6 separate regions of the Homo sapiens genome follow, and all the other regions are reported to be linked to region 4. Evidence: microRNA targets listed by miRTarBase, many of them from high-throughput screens and not tested one by one. Region 4 holds a microRNA gene; each other region holds the end of a gene's coding sequence. Distances are between the middles of the regions.
Evidence for each region. Region 4 holds the annotated microRNA hsa-miR-455-3p (GCAGUCCAUGGGCAUAUACAC, at 2,937-2,957, opposite strand). A microRNA usually pairs through its seed, bases 2 to 8, with sites in the 3' UTR of a target mRNA and lowers its output. Matches are read on the target gene's strand: a 7mer-m8 pairs with bases 2 to 8, a 7mer-A1 pairs with bases 2 to 7 and ends in A, and an 8mer does both.

Region 1: the mRNA of USP37 is a reported target of hsa-miR-455-3p. Seed matches in the 3' UTR shown: 7mer-A1 at 3,441-3,447.
Region 2: miRTarBase lists MTHFD1 as a target of hsa-miR-455-3p. The part of its 3' UTR that is shown has no 7-base or 8-base seed match.
Region 3: miRTarBase lists DNTTIP2 as a target of hsa-miR-455-3p. The part of its 3' UTR that is shown has no 7-base or 8-base seed match.
Region 5: miRTarBase lists NASP as a target of hsa-miR-455-3p. Seed matches in the 3' UTR shown: 7mer-A1 at 1,061-1,067.
Region 6: the mRNA of SCAI is a reported target of hsa-miR-455-3p. Seed matches in the 3' UTR shown: 8mer at 3,611-3,618.

What each region holds. Positions count from the first base shown.
Region 1 is chr2:218,451,638-218,455,726 of GRCh38, reverse strand. It overlaps USP37 (ubiquitin specific peptidase 37), which reads left to right. Exons shown (of 26, transcript NM_020935.3): 25 at 9-147; 26 at 710-4,089. The coding sequence ends at 797. It overlaps VIL1 (villin 1), which reads right to left. Exons shown (of 20, transcript NM_007127.3): 20 at 2,432-4,089. Among named protein-coding and RNA genes, the nearest start is that of VIL1, 35 kb to the right of the region's middle.
Region 2 is chr14:64,457,726-64,461,814 of GRCh38, forward strand. MTHFD1 (methylenetetrahydrofolate dehydrogenase, cyclohydrolase and formyltetrahydrofolate synthetase 1) reads left to right here. Exons shown (of 28, transcript NM_005956.4): 27 at 489-582; 28 at 2,034-2,300. The coding sequence ends at 578. It also overlaps a transcript of ZBTB25 not described here. Among named protein-coding and RNA genes, the nearest start is that of AKAP5, 5.7 kb to the right of the region's middle.
Region 3 is chr1:93,866,446-93,870,534 of GRCh38, reverse strand. DNTTIP2 (deoxynucleotidyltransferase terminal interacting protein 2) reads left to right here. Exons shown (of 7, transcript NM_014597.5): 7 at 591-4,089. The coding sequence ends at 684. Among named protein-coding and RNA genes, the nearest start is that of DNTTIP2, 11 kb to the left of the region's middle.
Region 4 is chr9:114,208,355-114,212,443 of GRCh38, reverse strand. MIR455 (microRNA 455) reads right to left here and starts at 3,010; the gene lies at 2,915-3,010. COL27A1 (collagen type XXVII alpha 1 chain) reads right to left here. Exons shown (of 61, transcript NM_032888.4): 11 at 2,716-2,769; 12 at 1,418-1,462.
Region 5 is chr1:45,617,675-45,621,752 of GRCh38, forward strand. NASP (nuclear autoantigenic sperm protein) reads left to right here. Exons shown (of 15, transcript NM_002482.4): 15 at 387-1,219. The coding sequence ends at 467. It overlaps CCDC17 (coiled-coil domain containing 17), which reads right to left. Exons shown (of 13, transcript NM_001114938.3): 9 at 3,964-4,061; 10 at 3,607-3,810; 11 at 3,229-3,439; 12 at 3,049-3,159; 13 at 2,370-2,759. The coding sequence ends at 2,601. Among named protein-coding and RNA genes, the nearest start is that of CCDC17, 4.3 kb to the right of the region's middle.
Region 6 is chr9:124,949,470-124,953,558 of GRCh38, reverse strand. SCAI (suppressor of cancer cell invasion) reads left to right here. Exons shown (of 18, transcript NM_001144877.3): 18 at 606-4,089. The coding sequence ends at 752. Among named protein-coding and RNA genes, the nearest start is that of GOLGA1, 10 kb to the right of the region's middle. RefSeq lists an enhancer at 3,126-3,175.

The DNA of each region.
Region 1 (4,089 bases), not on the chromosome of region 4:
TGTTTCAGGTCATTACATTAGTGATGTATATGACATTAAGAAGCAAGCGTGGTTTACTTACAATGACCTGGAGGTATCAAAAATCCAAGAGGCTGCCGTGCAGAGTGATCGAGATCGGAGTGGCTACATCTTCTTTTATATGCACAAGTAAGAAACTTTGCCAGATTCTAAATAATGAGTTAGAAATCACCGGAACTCTTTTTTTTTTTTTTTTTTCCTTTGAGGATAAAATGTTTCCATCAGTTGATTGGTTGAAAATTTTTGGTTTTTATCATCTTTGGTTAGGGTCTATCTCTTGATATTTCCTTGTAAGTCCAGAATATTTTCTCTCATAACTCAGCATTAATTGCTCATTACACAGTTGTATCTAGGTATGGAAGTTAAGACAGTTTGTTTTATGATAGAAGATGTCCTGTCATAAATAGTTTTGGTCATCCAGTTTTATCAGCTAGAAGATCTGATTTATATGGATGGGAATTACCTAGCATGTTCATTAAAGCTAACTGTTGTCAGTTCCCCTCTATTCTTAAAAATCAGCATTCAAAGGGTTAAGATCAAATGAGTGAGCTGCTTTTTAAATAAAATACAGGCATGAAATGGAATTGTGAAGGCCTTATCCATATCAATTTTATTTTACTTTTTCTCCTGCCTATTCTTTGGTTCTGCTTACTAAATTTCCAGTTTTATTTTTTGCTTGTTTTATCTTAAGGGAGATCTTTGATGAGCTGCTGGAAACAGAAAAGAACTCTCAGTCACTTAGCACGGAAGTGGGGAAGACTACCCGTCAGGCCTTGTGAGGAACAAACTCCTGGGTTGGCAGCATGCACTGCATATTTGTTACTGCTGCCCACCTCACCTTTCCTCTGCTGAAGGAGAATTTGGAATTCTACTTGATGCGGGAGCAACAAACAGCTCAGGGCCAAACCAAAAGACAAAAATTGGAGTAACGTAGAATGCTCCATGCTATTTTATGGAAACTTTGGTCTCACATCCGTAGCTGATTATCCTCTTTTTCTCCTATGAGTGGCACTTCTTTTGTCTTAGGAATACATGTTGTAAATATATATCTGTGTATGTGTGTATACACACACACAGACACACACACACACACACGGGATGAATGGAGCCTTAAAGAGTTAGGATGAGCCACCAGAATATGCCTGCTCAAAATTAATAGCACAGCAGTTTGGAGAAGAAATGAAGGTGTCAAAGAGTCCATTCACCTGAGAAATGTGTGAAGACATACTTATCAGTTGGCTTTTAGCTTTTATGTTCCTTGAGTAGTTTCACTCAAGTCTGTAACCTTTTGTGTTTCCTTATTAGTAAAATTCACTGGAAAGCCAGCTCTTCATGTTACACTAATGACAGTTTGTTCTCTTTGCAAGAGAGGGGCATTACTGTCACCTGACTTGAGGAGCTGTTTTGTTGTTGTTGTTGTCTGCAAATTTCATGAATTTGTGATGTCTTTGCTGTTTACATGCAGTCCCAAGAAATGGATTGTTGGTGCTTTGGAATATGTTACAGTCCCACATTTGATATTTCTTATATACTTTGTTTTCTCTAAGGAGATTTCTTCACACAGTATGTTCATCATATATCATCATCATTATTATGGTGGTAAAGATAGAATCTTTTTTCTTTTTTGTCATTCTGCCATGGAGCAGCATTACCCTAATGGATTGCAACCAAAACTTTAAACAAGTAGAAAGATAATATTTCTCCAATTGGGACTCCCCAGCAGGAATACTTAGGGATAAGGAAGAATGCTAGCATCTCTGTCTCTCAAACATAGGGAGGATAAGAAGAGTGTTCTTCTGGTAAAGCTAAAATTCTGGACCACTGAAGCTAAAAGCCCTATTGCAAGTATGAAATTAAGTACTTGAGCTGTAGGACAAACCTTGGGCATTTAACCATTTACTGTCTGGCTTTGCCCTTAAAATAGGGTTGCAATTAAAATGTGATTGGCTTAGGTAATCCCAAAAACTAACAAATAACAAAGGTGCATAATTTATTTATCTACTTTTTAGGTGCTCTGAGTTGAGGCAAAGTAGAGCGGCAACATTAAGTGCTATGCTAGTCACTTAGCTGACGTAACCAGCTTGGTTAAGCAGCTTATGAAACCATATAAAGAATTCTTTTGAGGATGGAATTCTGTCCACAAAATAATTTTGTGAGCCCAGATATCATTAGGATCACACAGAGTTAAATATAGAAAAATGAAACCATCATTATATTCTTTCGTGTTTTTTCTTTTATTATAAACAAGGGGATTATTCTTTAGTTCTCAGAGGTAGGGACAAAACCACATCAGGTTTTCAGAAGGAAAAAACATTTAAAAACCCACCATCACATGAGAGAATCACTTGAACCCAGGAGGCAGAGGTTGCAGTGAGCTGAGATCGCATCATTGCACTGCAGTCTGAGTGACAGAGTGAGACTCCATCTCATTAAAAAAAACGAAAACAAAAACAAAAAAAACACAAACCATCATCACAGAAGATGCAACATCTTTTCTGAAAGATTGCCTTAAGAGAGCTCCAGTCCTACTCTTGGAACTTGGATGTATTCTAATGTAGTAAACTATTCTAAGTTTTCATTCTTTGAATTATAAATGGCCTCAGCAGTTTTGCTCAACTACTGATAAATGCTTTGCCTCCTACCATCTACCTATATACCTTATTGTAATGAATGTTCCAAAATGGTAGAGTGGTAGAAAACGCCAGAGTAGTTTAGAGCAGAGGAAAATATTTGTTTTAAAACTAGCTTTAAAGTTTTGTTTCATTTCTACCAGGAGCCTCTTTGGTTTGGTTTGATTTTGCTTGGAAATAATTGGTTTTCTTATAAATGAGTGAAGCGGTGATAAAATTCTTTGGCTAGTTATTAATTCTTTTACGTGTCTTTGCATTTGAGAGGCACTGTTAAAAATTATTGGGAAAGATTTAAAGTGCAGGCTGCAATTAAAACATGGAGAAAAGTAGAAATAATGCCATAAGTCTAGATTGCCTCATGAAGCAGCCTCATTTGAATTGCTTTCATAGCTTTCATGTGTGTATGGTTTAGAAGTACACTTACCTCAGAAACCTGATTTGATCTTCATGTCTTGGGCAGGAGTTGTTGAAAATAGGTTATTGGAATATATAAGTTATCTCACTGCTCATGTACTTGCATGTTTGGGACTCAAATTTTACTTGATGTCTGTCCATTCTTGTGGCCCTATCAGCCTTCTCCTTCCTTTACTCCTTTAATCTACTTCTTTGACTACCAGTGGAGATTTCAGCTGGACTATGTTGATGGGGTTTGTTGTTGTTTTTGAGCTGGCTGTATATATTTTAAAATTATAAATAGATAATATATTATTTTTTGCACATTGTGATCAGTTTGCCCAGAATTGGGGATGGGGCAGTTAGCATGTTGGGGCCAGGAAGGGACAAGTTAGATAAGGACTGAGTGCTTCCGTTGCAGGCAGTTTGCACAATACCTAATTAACCTTCCTATTGAAAATACCAAATGTGTGGTTACATTACTTTAAATGACATTGAATTGGAACTTGATGGCAATTAGTTCTAGATACAACCTTTTGATCTTTGTTGGAATTTTAAGGGAAAAATGAACTAAACTTCATATTTGTTGATTTTAATCACCTAATAGTACTGAAGGTTGGAAAGTTGCATGTGGCTGGATGCTGTTAATTTCTTTAATAGCCATGACTATAATTTAAGCCTATGAGAAGATAGACTGTTTCGTAGGGATATATTCACATGTGTGTGCACACTCATGAGTTTTGTCTCAGCAGGATAGAATAAGCAAATCCATGAACTGGTCTTCTATTAATACTTTGATTCTAAAAATTATTTGTTTACTTGCTATGGTCTGTTCATTCTGGGCCTAACCTTAAAGGCTCAATAACAAATACAACAAATGTAAATATGTTTACATTTTAAGACATATGCAGTGGTTCTTACAGATCAGTTAATTAACTCCAGAAAGCAAATGTTAGACTACACATTTATTTTTCTCCTTGATCAAGTATAAAATTCTGAAACAGAGGCTTTAAAATTTAAAACCTCAGCAAAATAATCCATGAATTTA
Region 2 (4,089 bases), not on the chromosome of region 4:
GATTATAGGCATGAGCCACCACGCCCGGCAGGGATCAGTTTCTGAGTTTTTTAACAGGATCAGTGACTTGATTTTTAATATGTAACAAGAGTACCCACTTTATTGACAACTATAAAATGATGTTCTATCTTTATGCCTTGGGCTTTCTTTCTGAAGGAAAAGTGAAAGTAAAGATGACTTTACGTTTATTTTAGACATGGCCTTGCTCTGTCGCCCAGGCAATCGGATGATCATGGCTCACTGTGGCCTCAACCTCCTAGCCTCAAGCAATCCTCCTGCCTTAGCATCCCAAGTAGCTGGAACTACAGGCACATGCCATCATATCCAGCTAATTTTTTATTTCCTGTAGAGATGGGGGTCTCACTATGTTGCCCAGGGTGGTTTAGAACTCCTGGCCTCAAGTGATCCTCTCCACCTCAGCCTGGGATTATAGGCGTGAGCCACTGTGCCCAGCATTAGTTTATTTGTAATGCTTTTTTACATCCTAGATGAGCACAATGCCTGGACTCCCCACCCGGCCCTGTTTTTATGATATTGATTTGGACCCTGAAACAGAACAGGTGAATGGATTATTCTAAACAGGTAAGTTGTTACTGGGTAATAATTTGGCTTTTTTCCTCATGTAGCTTATTTATGAATTATAGGGCTCAAACTGACGCTATAAAAATTCACATTCTAATGCTTTCAAAACATTTCTTTTCAGACTTCCCTGAGGGGAGAGGGGATAGTAATGAGAGTTGGCAATAACCAATGAATTGAAATATTTATATTTCAACACATTTTTGGAAGAAGCGCAGCATGGCTTGTCACAGGTTGACAGTGTAGGGGAGAAAACTGCTGTCCAATAAACTACAGAGGAAACTACAGGAGAGGTTAGACTCCCTCTGCTGAAGCCCCAGGAGGCTTGGGGTTCAGAGTTGATGACACATTGCAGGTCAGGAACAGCTGACGGTCTGTATACTCTGAATAGGTAGTTAGAAGGCAAGAATTAGCAAATGTCTTAGGAAGTATAATAGAAAAGAGAAGGAAACAGGACCAATCTGGCAGTTCTTAGGGCCTTAGGTGAAAGGGCCCTGAGTACCGACTGCAATGAGTGACATTGCATTGTTTGATATTTTTGAAATTTCAACAGGACGTGTCTCTCCTTAGGCAGACCCTTGGGGCTGAAGCAGCAAGTTGCAGTGTGCACTTATATCCCTAGACACATCCTGTTGAAACTGCAAAAATATCAAACATGAAAATCCTAACATCTTTCTCCAGAGACGAAAAAAGTGGCTTGCCTATGAAAAGAATGAGAACTAGACTTAACGCCCGTCTTACTGGCAATAAGAAGCTTTTAGACAATGGAGGAGTGTCCTGTAAGGTCACAGGGAAGATGACTTTCAACATGTGCTCACACCTAGCCGAATCTATCTGGATATTTTCAGACGTGCAAGGGTTTGCCACCCCACATCTCTTCCTAAGAAGTTATTTAGCAATGTACTTAGCAAAATGAGGAATTAACCAAGAAAAAAGGAAGACGTGAGTTTTGGGAAACTGAACCCTCATTTGGACATTAGCGAAGGGGCATTCTGATAACCATGCAAATGACCTGAAGTTACAAATCCTGTGTGGAACAGGTTGGGGGAGCACCTGAGAAAAACTAGAAAAAGCTAGAAAAGACAAGGATATCAAAGGGTCATAGTATAAAACAAAAGCTCTTGCATTATTTGAGAAAGTTAAGGTCCAAGTAGAAGCAAACTGTAGTTTGATGCTAGAACACTATTCTTTGAGAGGGTATGTGTGATACTCGAAATGCAGTCATGGCTCACGGCTTGGTCTGGTCTTGAACAGTATTCACACAGTACTATGGAAATACCATGCATCATTTTCAAGTCCATTTATGGACACGCCCTAGAAGAGCTGGTGGCAGGAAAGGATGTAAATGTTAACAGCTTTGGCAATGTGAGTGGGTAATGGTGCAGTATGGAAGGAACAGGAAACATTTCAGTGCTTGCTTAGAGAAAACATTTATTTCTTGTTTTTCCTTCCAGATCACCATCCATCTTCAAGAAGCTACTTTGAAAGTCTGGCCAGTGTCTATTCAGGCCCACTGGGAGTTAGGAAGTATAAGTAAGCCAAGAGAAGTCAGCCCCTGCCCAGAAGATCTGAAACTAATAGTAGGAGTTTCCCCAGAAGTCATTTTCAGCCTTAATTCTCATCATGTATAAATTAACATAAATCATGCATGTCTGTTTACTTTAGTGACGTTCCACAGAATAAAAGGAAACAAGTTTGCCATCTTGGTGTTGCAATATGAATTACAGCCTTAACAGACTGTGCCACAGGTCTCTGCCATCCTTTGTGAGCTCATTTGTCAGGCAGACCCTTGGGCTGAAGATGCAAGTTGCAGTGTGCCCTTTATGATACTGTTGTGTTTAGAGGGAAATGTATGCATGCTTGTGTATTTCTGAGAGGACACATAATTCAGGGGACCTCCTGAGAGGGTTGGGTTGGAAGTTGATGACTTACCTTTTAATCTTATACCTTTCTATATTGTTGAATTTTGTTTTTCTACCCTGAGGAAGTATTGCTTATACAAGTTTTTGCCTGAACTTCCTTGGAATTCCCATTTCTGTCACAGCTTTAGCACTGTCTATGTTTAGAGTGCTCAAGAAGGATGGTCATGCAGCATTAGCCTTAGGTGAGCCTCTATTCTGTTGGTGCAGCAAGTATTCATTGAGTTTCTTCTAAATGCCTGGGCTCCACCCTTCCCTACAGACTTTTTATTTTTATTTTTATTTTTTTGAGACAGTGTCTCTGTCGCCCAGGCTGGAGTGCAGTGGCGCGATCTCAGCTCACTGCAACCTCCGTCTCCTGGGTTCAAGTGATTCTCCTGCCTCAGCCTCCCAAGTAGCTGGGATTATAGGCATGAGCCACCATACCTGGCCCAGACTTTCTTTTTCCTAAAACATTAGGTTGGTAAAAACCACAATTACTTTTGCACCAACCTAATATTTTTTTTCCTCCTCTTCTGGCTGGGCGTGGAGGTGGCTCATGCCTGTAATCCCAGCACTTTGGGAGGCCGAGGTGGGCGGATCACTTGAGGTCTGGGGTTCAAGACCAGCTTGGCCAACATGGTAAAACCCTGTTTCTACCAAAAATACAAAAATTAGCTGGGTGTGGTGGCAGGCACCTATAACCCCAGGTACTTGGGAGGCTGAGGTACGAGAATTGCTTGAACCCAGGAGGCAGAGGTTGCAGTGAGCCAGGATCATGCTGCTGCACTCCAGCCTGGGAGACAGAGCTAGACTCTGTCTAAAAAAATAAATCAAATATTTTTCCTTCTCTTCTTGTTCTTTATCTTCTATCTCTGTTCTTCCTCTCCCATTTGTTTCCTTCCCTTTTTCCCCTTGTCTCCCTCCACTGGATCCTTCCAGAGGATGCTGCATCCCACTGGCGCCAGTGCTAAACACTGCTGATGTTGGCAAAGCAGTATTTTTCCCAGTGACCTTGGTTTTATTATTTTTAATTCCCTAGGTCCATGTCAATGTTGTAATACAGTCAATTTTACAGTCCACAGAAATGATAGCGCTGCCTTGAGAGGCATATGGCAAAGGGGTCACAGTGCAGAGCCCCAGCTCTATGGCAGAGAGCCTCACCCACCTCCCTGCCTCCACATCCTCACCATGGAAATAGGAGCACTGTTGGTACCTACCTCGTGAGGGCGGTTCTGGAATTACTCAAACACATCATCTAAGATGCTTTGTACAGGGCCTGGCACATTGTAAGCACTTGTCAGTTCCTGTTGCACAGCATCCTCCAGGCCCTGTTTGCAGAGTTAATTGCTTCTGGTACTTTTTTTTTCCTTTTTTTTTTTTTTTTTTGGCAGGGGGGGTAGGGGGGTTGGGACAAGAGTCGTGCTCTTTTGCCCAGGCTGCAGTGTAGTGACGTGATCTCAGCTCACTGCAACCTCTGCCTCCCGGGTTCAAGCGATTCTCCCACCTCAGCCTCCCGAGTAGCTGGGATTACAGGTTCGCACCACCATGCCTGGCTAATTTTTTGTATTTTCAGTATAGATGGGGTTTTGCCATGTTGGCCAGGCTGGTC
Region 3 (4,089 bases), not on the chromosome of region 4:
GTGCAAATCTCTTTAATGTCTGGCTTAACTAAAGACAGAGGCTCATACCTGCTTCTGCAGATAACATACATCACGTAGCCCCTGGAAAACACTACACTCATGAGAGAACGAGGGTGAAAAAAGCGATTAATGCCTTAGTATTCTTGAGAAAATAGTTTTTACCTAATGAATCCCTTGAAAGGGTCTACTCCACAGACCACACTTTGAAAACCATTGGTCGCTTCTAAGAAATATATATATCATACTGTGCATTTTCAGGATAAGTGTGACTTTTTGTTTTGCTTAGTCCTGATTTTTGTGTTTTTATCCCTCAAAAATGTTTAAAGCATTTGATACAGCCTGGTGGATGGATATAGTGCATATATAGATCATATATGGATATATGGATAGATAGATGGATATAGTGCATATAGTAGGAAAGTCTTCCTACTACAGTTGCCATTTTTTCTCCCTAGATTGCAAGCAAGTGCTATGAGGTCAGAGACTATACTTGTCTTGTCCACCACTCCATTCCCAACTTTTACCCTAAGGTTATATTAACTTCTAATGTCTGATATATCAAACATAAAGTTCTGATTTTTCTTTTTCAGATACAACCGAAGGAAGTACTCAGAGATCATGGCTGAAAAAGCAGCAAATGCAGCAGGAAAAAAGTTCCGAAAGAAGAAGAAATTTCGCAATTAAGATTTACCAAGCAAACTGCAACATTTTACATTGCTCCTTTATTTACTTATTAAAGACGTTTGGAAAACTAACACCATCATCTAAATTAATTTACCATAGACTGGCCCTGTTCATACAGGAATTTGTATTTGGAAAAAGTTGATTTGAGAATCGATTACATGCCCTTAGAAAATAGGGGTGTCTAAAAGACCCACCCTGGTGTAGACTCTTTATGGGAAAAAAGGAAAAAAAATCTCAACCATTTTAAGATAACTGATGGTTTGTAAAGTTTTCAATGCTTAGTTATTTAAAGAAAATTTAATTAAAAGATAGGAAGTATAAAGTTTGCTAACATGTTCAAAGAACTTTAAAAAATGATCAAAGATATATAAACATTATTGTAATTAATAGGTAGTTTTATGTGTGTATGTGTGTGTGTGTCTGTGTAGGGGACGGGAGATGGTAGAGAGGCAATGCCCTATAGTTAGCTATAAAATTCAGATCCAGAAAGTTGGGATACAAAGATATGAAGAATATGACCTAGAAAGCTTGGGCAGAGGAGCTGTTTTCCTTGCTTGGCAACTGAAACAGGGAGGAATAATTGGTTTTTATCTAGATTTAAGTGTTGTGGTCCAAGTAAAACAGGATTAAACTATAATTTAAGTTGGCCAGGGTTTCTTCGAAGTTAACCCAGCTTACCTCTTCTCCAGTGGTACAGTATGCACCCTGGCTAAGCTGGTTTCTGGCACCCAAGGAGTGTTGGTCATTTCTGTTGATACTTGGTGAGTTGTAGCTTCCTTTATGTTACTATTCACTTTACCTCTATTTTTCCAGCATACTGCTTCCTTGAGATATCAGCAAATATGAAATCTTTTTTTTTTTTAATAATAGTTTTGGGGTACATGTGTAGAACATGCAGGTTACATAGGTATACACGTGCCATGGTGGTTTGCTGCACCCATCAACCTATCTACATTAGGTATTTCTCCTAGTGCTATCCCTCCCCTAGTCCCCCACCCACAACAGGCCCCAGTGTGTGATGTTCCCCTCCCTGTGTCCATGTGTTCTCATTGTTTACCTCCCACTTACGAGTAAGAACATGCAGTGTTTGGTTTTCTGTTCTTGTGTTAGTTTTCTGTTCTTGCTGAGATGATTTCCAGCTTCAGCCATGTCCCTGCAAAGGACATGAACTCATGCTTTTTTATGGCCACATAGTATTCCATGGTGTATATGTGCCACATTTTCTTTATCCAGTCTATCATTCATGGGCATTTGGGTTGGTTCCAAGTCTTTTCTATTGTGAACAGTGCCACAGTAAACATACTTGTGTATGTGTCTTTATAGTAGAATGATTTATAATCCTTTGGGTATATACCCAGTAATGGGATTGCTGGGTCAAATGGTATTTCTGGTCCTAGATCCTTGCGGAATCACCACACTGTCTTCCACAATGGTTGAACTAGTTTACACTCCCACCAACAGTGTAAAAGTGTTCCTAGTTCTCCATATCCTCTCCAGCATCTGTTGTTTCCTGACTTTTTAATGATTGCCATTCTAACTGGCAATGAGATGGTATCTCATTGTGGTTTTGATTTGCATTTCTCTAATGAGCAGTGATAATGAGCGTTTTTTCATGTTTGTTGGCTGCATAAATGTCTTCTTTTGAGAAGTGTCTGTTCATATCCTTCACCCACTTTTTGATGGGGTTTTTTCTTGTAAATTTGTTTAAGTTCTTTGTAGATTCTGGATATTAGCCCTTTGTCAGATGGATAGATTACAGAAATTTTCTCCCATTCTGTAGATTGCCTGTGCACTCTGATAATAGTTTCTTTTGCTGTGCAGAAACTCTTTAGTTTAATTAGATCCCACTTGTCAATTTTGCCTTTTGTTGCCATTGCTTTTGGTGTTTTAGTCATGCAGTCTGCCCATACCTATGTCCAAAATCTCATATTTACTGCTTGGAGTCAAAAGCTAGTAATAGCAGAACTGACAATAACATTCATAGTTGGAGTTAGGGAAGCATCTATGTCTGTTCTCTTTTATTTTAAAAAAAAACTACTTTTGTTTCTGGAATACTATGTTTTGCCTTCTACTGGATAAAATAAGGACCCAGTATGAGAGAATTGTATCCTTTAGTGCTTCTGGCCTTCTACAAATACCTGGATATTTAAATAATGGATGAAGTTATGTTTTGCTTTTTAATAAGCAAGTCTTTTGAGAAACAGGTTTTACTGACTTTGGCCTGTGTCACTAAACTCAGTTCACCTACTGGAACTTTTTTTTTTTTTTTTGAGACGTCTCACTCCATCACCCAGGTTGGAGTGCAGTGGTGCCATCTCAGCTCACTGCAACCTCCGCCTCCCAAGTTCAAGCGATTATCATACCTCAGCCTGCCAAGTAGCTGGGACTACTGGGCATGCCATTATGCCCAGCTAACTTTTGTATTTTTAGTAGAGATGGGGTTTTGCCATCCTTACCTCAAGTGATCCACCCGCCTCGGCCTCCCAAAGTGCTGGGATTACAGGTGTGAGCCACCATGCCCAGCCAACTGGAACTATTTGAAGGCTTTATACCAGAAAAGTATAAAGAATCCAAAGGGCTGCCACAGTCAGGTGTGCTGGTGAAAGAGACCTTCAAGATACCCCTGAGAAGATCTTGAAAGATTTCGAAAAGAATGCTGTATTTATACACCATCTGGCTCCAAGATGCTTTTTTTTTTTTTTTTTTTGAGAGACGGACTCTCGCTCTGTCGCCCAGGCTGGAGTGTAGTGGCATGATCTTGGTTCACTGCAACCTCCGCCTCCCGGGTTCAAGCAATTCTGCCTCAGCCTCCCAAGTACCTGGGATTAACAGGCACCCACCACCACACCCGGCTAATTTTTGTATTTTTAGTAGAGACGGGGTTTCACCATGTTGGCCAGGCTGGTCTTGAACTTCTGACCTCAGGTGATCCACCGGCCTCAGCCTCCCAAAGTGCTGGGATTACAGGCAGGAGCCACCACGTCTGGCCCAAAATGTTCTTAAAACAAAGTAGATGCTGTAAGACTACAGTTGATAAAGTTGGGCTCTGGGCTAGGTTCTTAGCATCCAACACAATCAGTTCTGTGTTCAGTGTTCTGCTGTATGATAAACCAACTGCTCTAGAGAAACACCAATATTCCTCTTCTGAAACCTGGGAAAATGTCTTTTTTGGGTCCCATAACTAGATGTCACAAAAGGAGTGGGGAGTGGGGAGGCTATATAAAAAAGTTCAACAAAACCTTAGTAACTGGTATACATTAATAGGATCCCATTCTTAGAAACAGCAAGTTAAAGAAAATACCATAATGGGAAAAAAAAGTTAACATTTCTGAGAGATGTACCAGGTATTCAGTCTCTCAGGCAGTGACAACTTGTTCAGAATAATTACCTACAATAGATCCCAAA
Region 4 (4,089 bases):
CCAAGAGAGTGGGAACTTTGTCTTATCCACTGCTCTGCCAGAACAAAGCAAAATGCTTGGCCCATAGCAGGCATTCAACAGATATTCATGGGATGAACAGATAATCACTGGATGAACAAATCTCCTTGCCTGAGGTCATGCTGGCTTGAGGGACAACCCCATGTGCCAGCCCAGCCCTCTCAGACTCCAGGTCCTTGCCCTGAAGCTGGGAGCATCAGGTGCTGCTCCTTGCCCAGGTCTAGGTGTCAGGTGTTGGACCTTAGAGAAGACTGCCTGTTCGGGCCACAGAGGGGTCTAGGTTGGGGGTGGAGGGACCTCCTCTGTCAGCTCTTTGAGGCTTTTTTCTTTTCTTTGTTTTTCCTCTTTGGCCCCCAGAGGGCCCAGGTTAAACGCTCCAACAGCTAACATGCCCATCAGTGGCAGAAGCACGGAGAGGCCCCTCTGAGCACTCTCGAATGCTCCAGGCCTCCTCTTCATACTCCCTTCCTCACCAACCACCAGCGATGGGAGGCCCAGACTTGGTCTGACCATGGTTCCAAGTCAAGGAGTCAACCTGCAGGGCAGTGGCAGAGGGACCCTGGTATCTCATTCTGCCTCTCAGAGCCTCAGTTTCCCGCTTCTCAATAATTGGAATGAATGATCTTCCTTCCAGGCGAAGAGTCTAGGGAACCTATTTTTATAATATGACTGCCAACTAGGGACCCTGAGAGGCTGCCTCAAGCAGCCACTGAGATCAAAGACACCGGGAACAAACCAACTGAGTTCCAATCCTGGCTGCATTGTTTACTCATCGTGCAAGTGACTTAATCTCTCCGTGCCTTGGCTCTTTCTCCATGTTCTGCACATGTCCAAACAAAGGGAAAAACAATTTCCTCCCATGATGGGGAGCCATAGAGAAAGCTGGTGAATTGGGGGTCACCGCTGAGCCCCTCTTTCGGTCATGCCTGCTGTGGGCACTGCCCATAAACCCCATTGTCCTCTGGCTTTGCGTGTGCATGAGCAAACTGGACAGAGCCGGATGACACCAAGACGATGTGGAGACTGAGTGTTCCCTGAGATGGGAGCAGAGTCACCTGGTCTAGCCAAGGTCCCCCGGTCACAGCAGACCCACAGACACAAATACCTTAGACAGAAGCCCCCAGACACAGAACTGCACTGGAGAGCCACTGATGCCCACAGGGAGACAGGAGCTACCCCAGAGGGGTCCAGAGCCCATGGAAGCCCCAGCCCCAGCCAGGCCCCAGTCACGCCGTGTGCCAGCAGCAGGTCCTGTGGCCAGACAACCCCACATGCGGCCCCCACACTCAAAGCAGGGGGAGAAGCAGAAGATGCCAGGCAGCAGGTGGCCAGGGCAGCGTGGCCGTGGGAGGTGGGGTTCCCCGCTAGAGTCTGCGTAATAGACACGGAAAATCTTTACCGGCATACCCATCTTGCCCCTCTTGCCAGGAACGCCAGGCAGGCCCTGCAGGGGAGAGACAGGGGAGAGGTCAGGGCAGGATGCCAGCAGGGACAGCCAGGCTTGCCCCAAACCAGCCCAGAGCCACCCACGGCAGGAAGTCACAGAGGGCCTGGAATGTGTGCCACTTGCGTGGCGGCCCCAGTGACATGCACATCAGACGGATGGCAGGGTCGGGGTCTGTGGTGACCTAAGAGACAGAGAAATGCCAGTTCCTGTAATCAGCAGGTGCTTCATAAATGCTCAGGCTCCAGCTGTCCTAAGGTTCTCTATACCCAGCTTATGGAGGTTACAAGTGAGTTCCCATAGATACGGGCTCAGGTTGGGAGGGGGCGGGGAGGAAGATCCCGAGGCCACCACCCCAGGGGCTTCTAATGGACCTCCAGGCTGGGCCAGGGGTCTGTGAGAAGCTCCCACACCATCTTTTGGACTCCTCTGACTTAGATACTTGGTCTGGAAGGACAGGGTGTCTTAGGAAATCTTAGCACCCACTGCCCACCACCAAACCAGTCCCACCACCTTCCCCAGACAGCCGCTCCCCCTGGCTGCTGGAACTCCTGCCACCTGCTCTTGCTGTCCCCACCCCCAACCAACACATTTTACTCAAGTAAACCAACTGATCTGTCTAAAAGAGGAATCAGCAGATGGTTTCTGGAAAGGGGCAGATAGTGAATATCTTTGGCTCTGTGGGCCATACGGTCTCTGTCACACCTACTCAACTCTGCCATTGTAGTGAGAAAGCGGCATTGACAATATGTAACCAAATGAGCAAGGCTGAGTTCAATAAAACTGTTTGCAAAAACAGACAACTGGCTGGATTTGGCCCATGGGCCACCGTTTGCAGACCCCTGATCTATATTATAAAGTGGGCCCGGTGTTCATTGGTTGCAAGTCCTCAAGAGGCTCCGCATACCCTCAGAACAGAGTTCCTTTTCTAACCTTAGTCCTGGGCACCTAAGACATTGCCCCAGGGTCCTCTCCAGCCTCAACTCCCACCACTCTCACCCTCTCACGCAGCACTTTGGCAGTGTTGAGTGTTAAACTCGCCAAGTTACCGTAAATCCCTGACTTCGCACATGCTGTTCCCTATGCCTGGAATGCATCTGCCTTGACTTGTCCCCTTATCAGACTCCTACTCGACTCAAGTGCACCTCCTCCAGGAGGAATTCCTTGACTTCCCCAGGCTGGTGCCTGGCAGGTTCTGCTCTGTTTGGGCAGGGGTGGCTGTGGATGGTGAATAACCAAAGAAGCAAACTTACTCGTTCTCCATCAGACCCTGGCAGGCCGAAGAGCCCTGGGAGCCCAATGTAGCCCTAGGAAAGAGAAGAAAGGGGGTCAGAGCGGTCAAGCAGTGAGGTGTGGCTGGCCCAACCTGCCGCAGCCCACCCACCACTGCCATCCCACATCCCGGCTCCTCCTCTTCCTCCCTGGTGGCAGTGGCAGCTCCGGTGGCTCCTCGATGACATAGGCCTTGAGGCAAGTGTATATGCCCATGGACTGCATGGTGCTGGCTTCCACGATGTAGTCCAAAGGCACATACCCTCACGCCAGGGAAGGGCGCAGGCGCTCGCCGGCAGGAGGCCCGCCCCACGCCAGGGCTCCAGGACCTGCAGAAGGAAGCTCGCGGCTGGGTTAGATGCTAGCACGGCACCAAGCCCTGCCCACCCCCAGGGATGCTGGTAGGTGCCCGTGGCTCCTGCCATGGCTCCTCCTAGGCCTTCAAGGTCCTGGATGTAGGGCTTACATCCACCTCTGGCCGCCTGAGTGCTGGCATTAACTAACAGCGGCTGCGAACCCGGAGTGCCAACATTGTGCCAGGCACATGCATGCTACCACATTAGACTCTCACAAGGACCCCCCAGATTGTCACCACCCACACTGGACAGACAAAGAAACTGAGGCTCTGTAGATAAAGCAACACGACTAGTCAGTAGTGGAGCTGTGAATTCTCTTCGGGAATTCCTAATCAGTTCAAGGGTCACCCAGGGCCAGCTGACTCCACAGCTGGGGCTCGTCACCATTCTGGGGCTCTTCCCTAGGATGCATCTCATTTCCTCCCTCCCAGCCTTTCCTCACTCTGTCCCCTCCACCAGGCATGTCCTTCCCATCCCTCATGACTTCTGAGCCAAATCCTTCAAAGCCCAGCTCTCATAAGCGCTCTCCTTGGGCAAGCATCCCTGATACCCCAAGCCGGAAGCAATCTCTCCCCCCCATCCCCAGTGCCATTTTTGCACCTCGGTAGCATCCTTCTCCACTTTCTCCCTTGTATCTTCATTATTTGTGTTCATGCTTCACGTCCTCATTAGCCTGGGAACTTCTAAAGGGCAGTAACCTCGCCCGGGGCTTCTACCACTATCTGCGTGCCACTCTTGGTGGAATGATTTAATAATAACTCTAACAAAAGCTAATGTTTATTGAGCACGAATGATAGGCCAGGCCTGCTGCCAGTGCTTTGCATATATTAAAGCATTTATTCCATCCTTATCACACCCCGAGGAAGTATTATATTTTATTATTTTTTTATTTATATATATTTTTTGAGACGGAGTCTTGCTCTGTCATCCAGGCTGGAGTGCAGTGGTGCGATCGTGGCTTACTGCAACCTCTGCTTACCGGGTTCAAGCGATTCTCCT
Region 5 (4,078 bases), not on the chromosome of region 4:
CCCCACCTTGAGCCTGCTAACGATTGTTGAGTGCAGTCCTCACAGAAAACGGTACTTGTGCAGGAAAACAGTTTGGTTATGGGAGTATAGGATGACTCACTGACAAATGGAACCTGTATATTATAGGTCCCTCGATGAATATATGAGAAGGCACTTGATGGGCAAAACCATTAGGTCACTTCCTTCCACGTGATGATTATTGGCTCTGTCAGCCCCATTATCACAGAGTATTCAAGAAATACTTTGTGGTCACTGCCCTCTTAATATAGGGAGCAAAGCAGAGTTTGGGTGACTTGTATATGCTTCCTATGACTGAGGCCTCAGTTATATAAGACAGAATGGCTTAAACTAGGCTCACTCATGCCCAGGTTCTGTTTGTCTTCCAGGCTGAGAATCAGGCTGAAAGCCGGGCAGCAGTGGAGGGGACAGTGGAGGCTGGAGCTACAGTTGAAAGCACTGCATGTTAAGAGGGGGCACAGCCCTCCTCCCAAGGGAAAGTGTTTTTGTATATAATGTATTTTTTCACTTTTGGAGGATTCTTTTTGTATAACTTCAATAAAGATTGTAAGCAAAGGTTGAGGCTTTGATGGTTTTTTTCTTAATTATTGGCTGAATCTGCCTTGGAGCACTGCTGGTTTTATATATTAGCCAAAGGTTTTGTTCTGGCCTTCTGTACTGATCTGTGTTCCTGATCCTAATTCCTATCTGTCTAACGTGGAGGTGATCAAGTGTGGCTGTAGGCCTTTGTTTTCCAATGGTGCTATATTCTGTTTTCAAACACTTCACTGAACCCAGCTGTCTTGCAAACTTTCAGTGGTGCTGTCCCTGGATGGGGGCTACAAAAACAAGAATTGGTGAAGATCTTGCTCTTCAGTGCTGAAAATGGATGATGGACTTTGGCTGTGAGCCAGGCCTAGGATGGTTCTTGTCCTATATCCACCTAGTCTTCACCTGGGGCTATAATTCTGTCCTGGAAAAAGAACTCTGAAAACCTGGGTCAGGGGAATGATTCCTAAGGAAAACGGTCTGCATTTGAGCTCTGGTTTGAAAGTAGCCAAGGGGACTGATGGTGGACACTCCAGATGTGGTTGGAAGCATATGTGGGGAGGCTGGCTGGTTGAGTTTTGTTATTTTCTGTATAGAAAGGTTGAGATATATCAACACTTGGAATTGTTACCCATCTGCAGAATTGACTTCTCAAATAAAGATGCTAAAAATCTCCTTGTCTGGAATTATGTTTAAAGATCTTAAGTGGGGTCTTAGGCTGCTTTTTTGAGATGGGATCTTGCTCTTGTCGCCCAGGCTGGAGTGCAGTGGCGTGATCTCGGCTCACTGCAACCTCTGTCTCCTGGGTTCAAGAGATTATCCTGCCTCAGGAGGCTCCCAAGTAGCCAGCACTACAGGCTAATTTTTGTATTTTTGGTGGAGACGAGGTTTCACCATGTTGGCCAGGCTGGTCTCGAACTCCTGACCTAAAGTGATCTGCCCACTTTGGCCTCAGGAAGTGTTAGGATTACAGGCGTGAGCCACTTCACCTGACTGCCTGGAGCATTTCTGTGTGCGATAGAGGGTTTCAAAGGCAGAAACGAGCCCACCAGTCCAAGGATGCTGGTGGTGAGGGCACTAGTATTAATGTTAGACCTGTTGTGCTCTCACTGGTGTCTAGGGGTCAGGGCTCACTTGAGACTGAACTGCCTCTGACCTGACTCTAAGTACCAGTTAGGATCTGAATTCCAAACAATGCCTGCCCTATATCACCACCTCAATTTAGTAGTCATGACACCCATAGGGCTGCTTTTGTTGCACTGGAGGCAGAGGAAGCGATGGCCGGCCCCTAAATTCAACCCAATTTTTCAGACTAAGTAAGTTTTTCTGGGCTGGTCACAGTAACTCATGGTTGCAGGATCTCTGGCTTATCCTGGCTGTGGAGTTTCTTCCTGATGTTGCCCTTGCAGTATATGTTCCAGGTCCTGAGGCGCTTTGCCCCCTTTTCTTGGTCAGGACAGTCACGATGTAGTTTACTCCCAGGCACTTGACCTTCTCTGGTTGGCACTGGGATCTAGGGCTAGGCACAGTATCTAAGCTAGATCTCACATGTGACCCCTGGTTGGGGGAACAACCTTGGGCTGGGGACCTATCCCAGAATCAAAGTACATAAGGCCTCAGGAGCTTCCTGTTTATGGGTACATTGAGAACCTGAAAGGTTTCCTGGCAGAAATACTGAGGAAACGGATTTAAGTTTGGCAATAAAACTGGCTTTACCAAAAAAAGCAGTGGGAACTAGTGGGAATTTAAAGTTGCTTTAGTGGGAATTAATGCCCCCTAGTCACCTTTCGGAGAACTTCATAAGTGCCAGACAATATCACAAATACCTGACAAACTCATTTAATCCTTAATCTGTTTTACAAAAACAGAAGAGGTACAGAAAAGTTAAGGACTTAACGGGAGGTGGTAAAGCTGTGGTTGGAACTGGTTTTCTGTACTCAACTGCTAGATGCTTCTAGACCCAATGTCAGAACATGGAGTAGTAAACCTGTAGGTCTGGAAATAGGCCCCAGTCCTGTGCATGTTCAGATGCTCATCTCCACATTCACTTGGGTTCAGAAACTCACTGGGGGCAAGTCAGAACTGTGGTGAGGGCCCAAACCCTCATCTCTATCCTTGACTCCACTGAGGGGCTCTTCTGTACGAGGTGGGGGATCAGCAAAGCCAACTGCGGGGGTGAGGAAGCTGGCTTCCAGTGAAGATGTGCTGGACACCTGTGGAACAGGAGAAGGCAGGTTTTGAGCAAAAATGTAAAGGTTAAGCACACAGGTTTTGGAGTTAGTTAGGCTTCCTTAGAGTCTCACTTACTGTGAACCAAGTTAACCTGCTCCTGCTTTGATTTCCTTATCTGTTACATAGTAGGACTTCATAGAGATGTGAGGATCAAACAAGAAAGCATTGGTAATGACTGGCACACAGTGGTCAATAAAGGCTGGCCGTTAGCCATACCAGCCACACCGGTATGTGTAGCTGTGGTGTCCCTAGCTGCAGCTGGGCCCTCACCGGAGGTGGGTACTGGTACTCATGGACACTTGCTGGATTGATCTCTGCCAGTGTCTGTACAGCTGCATCTCTTGCATTCACCAGCCGCAGAAAGAGCTCAGCCTGACCTGCCTGGGGAGAGATGAAATGGTATTGCACTTGTACTTTGCTGTATGCCCAATCCCTGCGCACCACACTCACCTGAGGAATCCCATTCAGCTGCCCAAGGCTAAGGCTGGGGTCCAGAGGAAGGGCCCGAAGTGGGAGGCGCCAGCGGCCACTTAGCACCCGCTGATCTTGGTCAAATAGTCCAAGTGAGACCCAAGCCTTTGGCTGTGGTGCCCTAGCCCATGCTAGCCCCTGCCAGACCTGCAGCTCACAGACCAAAGATACTGATGATGAGGGTGGTAGTCTGTAGAATAACCAAAAAGCAGTGTCGGAAGCCAGAGCTACAGTCCCTTTCTAGGACTTAGCCCTTTAGAGCCAGCGGCCTCTGTATACAGATGAGAAAACTTAGCAGAATGGTGGATAAGCCTCAACTGTGGCAGAGTACCAGAGTCATGATCCCCACCTACTGACCTGGGCACAGGCTGCCTGCTGGCAAGGATGGCACAGTTGCCCATGGGCCCGGGAGCAGGAGGTGGGGGCAGGCAAAGGGCTGGGGGCAACGCTGTGGTCCTTCCTGTATCCCGTCCATCGCGTGCCAAGCCAGTCCTTAGTTGCACCCAAATCCAGGAAGCCTCAAGGCCCCGCAGGAAATCATAGAAAATGACCAGGCCAGCCCTGGGGAACACAAGTCTTAGCACAGAAATACCCAACTCCTTTCAACCTCCCTCCTCTCAGGCAGGTCCCTAACCCTATCTGGTCCTAGTGGGCTCCCTTAACCAGCAGTGCTGGCCAAGTCACAGAGGCTGTCGAAGGTGGCACGGGCCTCACCCAGGATCATAGGGTGCAGGGCCCAGCATGTCCGATGTGGGCAGGAGGAAGTGTGAGTCCAGGCCCAGGTTTCTGGTCATTGTTCCAGGAAGCTGTGGCTGTGGGGAAGAGAGCT
Region 6 (4,089 bases), 11 Mb from region 4:
CGCCTCCCGGGTTCAAGCAGTTCTCCTGCCTCAGCCTCCTGAATAGCTGAGATTACAGGTGCCCACCACCATGCCCGGCTAATTTTTGTATTTTAGTAGAGATGGGGTTTCAGCATGTTGGCCAGGCTGGTCTCAAACTCCTGACCTCATGATCTGCCCGCTTCGGCCTCCCAAAGTGCTGGGATTACAGGCGTGAGCCATGGTGCCCGGCTGCCCCAGCCTCATTTTAATTTCCAAAGCAATATCTTTTTATTTATTTAACATATACTTGTTGAAATTCTATATGTGTTAGGATTTTCCCCCCAGTAGCATGAATTATATGGTTTCCACGTGATACAGAGCATAGTGTCTAGCAACAATAGGCCTCAGTAAACATTTGTGGAATAACTCACTAAATGAATATATTACATTGATTCATCTGAAACTGTCATTTTTAGAGGTCAAAATGGTTAAATATCAGCAATTCAATATTCAACAAATATATTAATAAGAATCATTCCAGTATAAAAGTGAAAATACATATTACTCCTTGACACTGTTATCAATGTGTATAATTTTCTTTCATTAGACTACAAAACTTGACTTTTCTCTTCTTTGCCTACCAGGAAACACGAAATTATCCAGAATCATATCCACAACTGCCAAGGGATGAAACAGTGGAGAATCCTCATCTCCAGAAGCACATTTTGGAATTAGCATCCATTCTGGATGTTCGAAACGTGTTCTTTGAGAATACCATTGATGACTATTAAAACAAAAACCCTGTTGTCGAAACAAGTTTTCATTTTCCACAAATTTTAAATGGTGCAGTTTTCTAACGTGATAAGACACATAGTGGTGTTACTTAGTTTTTATTTTTTAATTTAGGGCCACCATTTTAAAAACAAACAAAAAAATGTTCACACTTTTAGGGTAACTGTTTTAAAATGCAACCTTTCAGGTCTTTTAAAATCTTAACCTTGGAATTTTTATTTTTTGATTTTGAGGGATGGATATTTACCTCCAACTTCTAATCCTACACTCAAATAGTCACTATTCTCACCCTGAGAAGAGTAAATCATTTATTTTTGTATAATGAGGTAAATCCAACTCTTATACTTGGACCTAAGTTAAATGTCTGGATTTGGAAATATGTAATGGTTCATAATGATGAAGCTAGCCACCATGGACTACTGAAAATCAAGAACAGAGTCCCTCCATAATATATTTTTTCTCATTCCAACTTAGCTGGTAGAAAAATGTTTGATCCTTTGAAACATGATCAAGCCAGTTTTTTGAAATCATTTAATTTCTTTCAATACTGTCATAATTTCAGAAATTGGATTGAATTGCATCTGAAAGCTACATCTTGATTGAGGACTTGAGGTGGTAATATTACTTGGAATGTATGAGTATTATGAGATTTATTTGCATATTTTCTTTGTAGTCTGTGAATGCTGGAAATGAAAAAGGAAACAACTTTGAAATATTTTAGTCAAAAAACCATGTCATTGGTTTCATAATACAATGTCTCCAATAGGAATTCTATTTAAACTCTTGGTTTATGAGATCACATTTAAAGACTGGATTGATGTCTGTGACATAAAGTTTTAATTTTTTGCCTCATTCAAATTTATGAGACTTCAAAGTCATAGATGTTTTAAATTTTGGTAAGGGGTAACTGGGTGTTATGAAACCTAAAATGTAAGTTGATTTTGCATTGGTAATTTGGAAATAAGATTTATTAACATTCCCTGTATTTAGTATTTTATATTCATGCACAAAATTTTTATTATCTTAAATAGGACTCAGTGTATATTATAAAGATTTTTCTTTTTTGTGTTTTCCTTCCCTGTCATTCCCTTTATAATTTCACAGTCACTTGCTATGAAGTCCTCCCTCCTTTTTGATTATGCAGCATTCAATTTCAGAAATCTATGAATGAGAAGGCCTTATACCTAATTTTCTGTACAGGATCACATCTGGCAGTCCCAGGAGAAGTGAGCTGATTGCTTTTGATATCTCTTTCCCATGGCCCTAGGTAAATTATACTCTAAATTTATTTATTTTTTTTGAAACAGAGTCTTGCTTTTGTTGCCCAGGTTGGAGTGCAGTGGGGCTATCTCGGCTCACTGCAACCTCCGCCTCCCAGGTTCAAGCAATTTTCCTGCCTCAGCCTCCCGAGTAGCTGGGATTACAGGTGCCCGCCACCATGCCTGGCTAATTTTTGTATTTTTAGTAGAGACGGGGTTTCACCATGTTGGTCAGGCTGGTCTCAAACTCCTGACCTTGTGATCTGCCTGCCTCAGCCTCCCAAAGTGCTGGGATTACAGGCGTGAGCCACCGCACCTGGCTATTATTTTTAACTTGGTTTTCATTTCTGGCATAGAGACTAATTTGGGTCTAAGTTATTCCCATTCCTGCTTTGATTTGCTGATTTTTCAAACCTGAAGTCCAAAGTTACTGTTTTTGGGGTTTGGGGACTTGGGGAGTATTTTACTTTTTTTTTTTTTTTTTTTTAAGAGACAGAGTCTTGCTTTGTTGCCCAGGTTGGGGTGCAGCGGTACATTCATGGCTCACTGCAGCCTCAAATTCCTGGATTCAGGCAATCTTCTCACCTCAGCCTCCCAAGTAGCTGGGACTACAGGCATGCGCCACCATGCCTGGCTAATTTTCTTTATTTTTTAATTTTTTGTAGAGACATGGTCTCACTTTGTTGAGCAGGCTGGCCTCAAACTCCTGGGCTCAAGTGATCCTCCTGCCTCAACCTCCCAAAGTGCTAGGATTACAGGTGTGAGCCACTGTACCTGGCCTGTTTACTTTTTAAAAATTTTTTTGTTTGTTCTTTCAAACAGTATTTCAGAAAGCTTGGGAAAAGTTACCCTGGAAAGATTTCCTTTGCTAGTGGGTTTTCATTTTCAGGTAAAGACTGCTTTCCTTTTTTTTCAGTATCTTAATAAACTTCATAGCTTTCCTTTAGTAACAGTGTTCATTGAACTACAGCAATAGACTATCTTCGGTTTTCTGACCTCTTGTTTCAATTCCCCTTAAGTCCTGTGCCAGTTATGCTCCTACCAACACAGAGTTTCCTGTCCTCTAATGTTTAAAATAGTATTTACTGTTCTGAGCTTTATCCTCCCCCGTTAAGCATAAAGAACACTGGTCTGAGAACTAGGAGACCTAAGTTCTAGTCCTGGCTTTCCTGGTAACTTAAGCGTTATGCCCTTTGACAACTGTCTTCATGTCTCTGCTTGTTAGCACTCTCATCTGTAAAATGAAGAGGTTGGCCCAGGTCTTCTCCAACTCTGATTCTGTAATTTGGACTCTTGGTTCCAAAAATATTGATTTCCCCACTCCAACCACCAAGAGAACTATTTACCCTGTTTGTAGTGTACACAACCTTTTCTTTTGTAAGTCATATTTACCTAGATTTTGTTCAAGAAAATCTGGGTCCCACTTAGCTGTTTTAGAAACTAGTACAGACAGAGACTCTCCTGAGGAAATTAGAGCTTTTATGATTAGAAACATGCTTGTCTAAAAATGAGGGTCTTAGAAATCACAACATTGACCCTTATGATGTTGCCCCTTAAGCTAATAGTGTAATTCCTTACTGGTAGTTAAAAATCTAAAGTGGACTGAAGTGATCTTGAATCTTCAAAGAGAGGAAAACTGTGCTGGAAAATGTTATTGTTTCATTGATGCCTTCAAAAAAATGCGTATTAAACAAAGACTATACTCCAGATTTTCTTCTGGGCATTGGGGAAGCAAACAAAATAGACTTAAAAATCCTCATGTTCATGAAGCTTACATTCTAGTAGAAGGAGTAAGGCAATAAACATAAGTAATTTATGTTAGAAAATGTTAAGTAGGATGGAAAAGTGTAGATTATGGTAAGGTAAATCTTTTGTTTGTTTTCTTAAGAGAAGAACAATGTTTAAAAGAGTGATCAAGCAGGGCATGGTGGCATGACCCTATTAGTCCCAGCTACCTGGGAGGCCGAGGTGGGAGGGTCACTTGAGCCCAGGAGTTTGTGGCTGCAGTGAGCTGTGATTGCACCACTGCACTCCAGCCTGGATGGCAAAGCAAGACCTCGTCTCTGGAAAAAAAGAA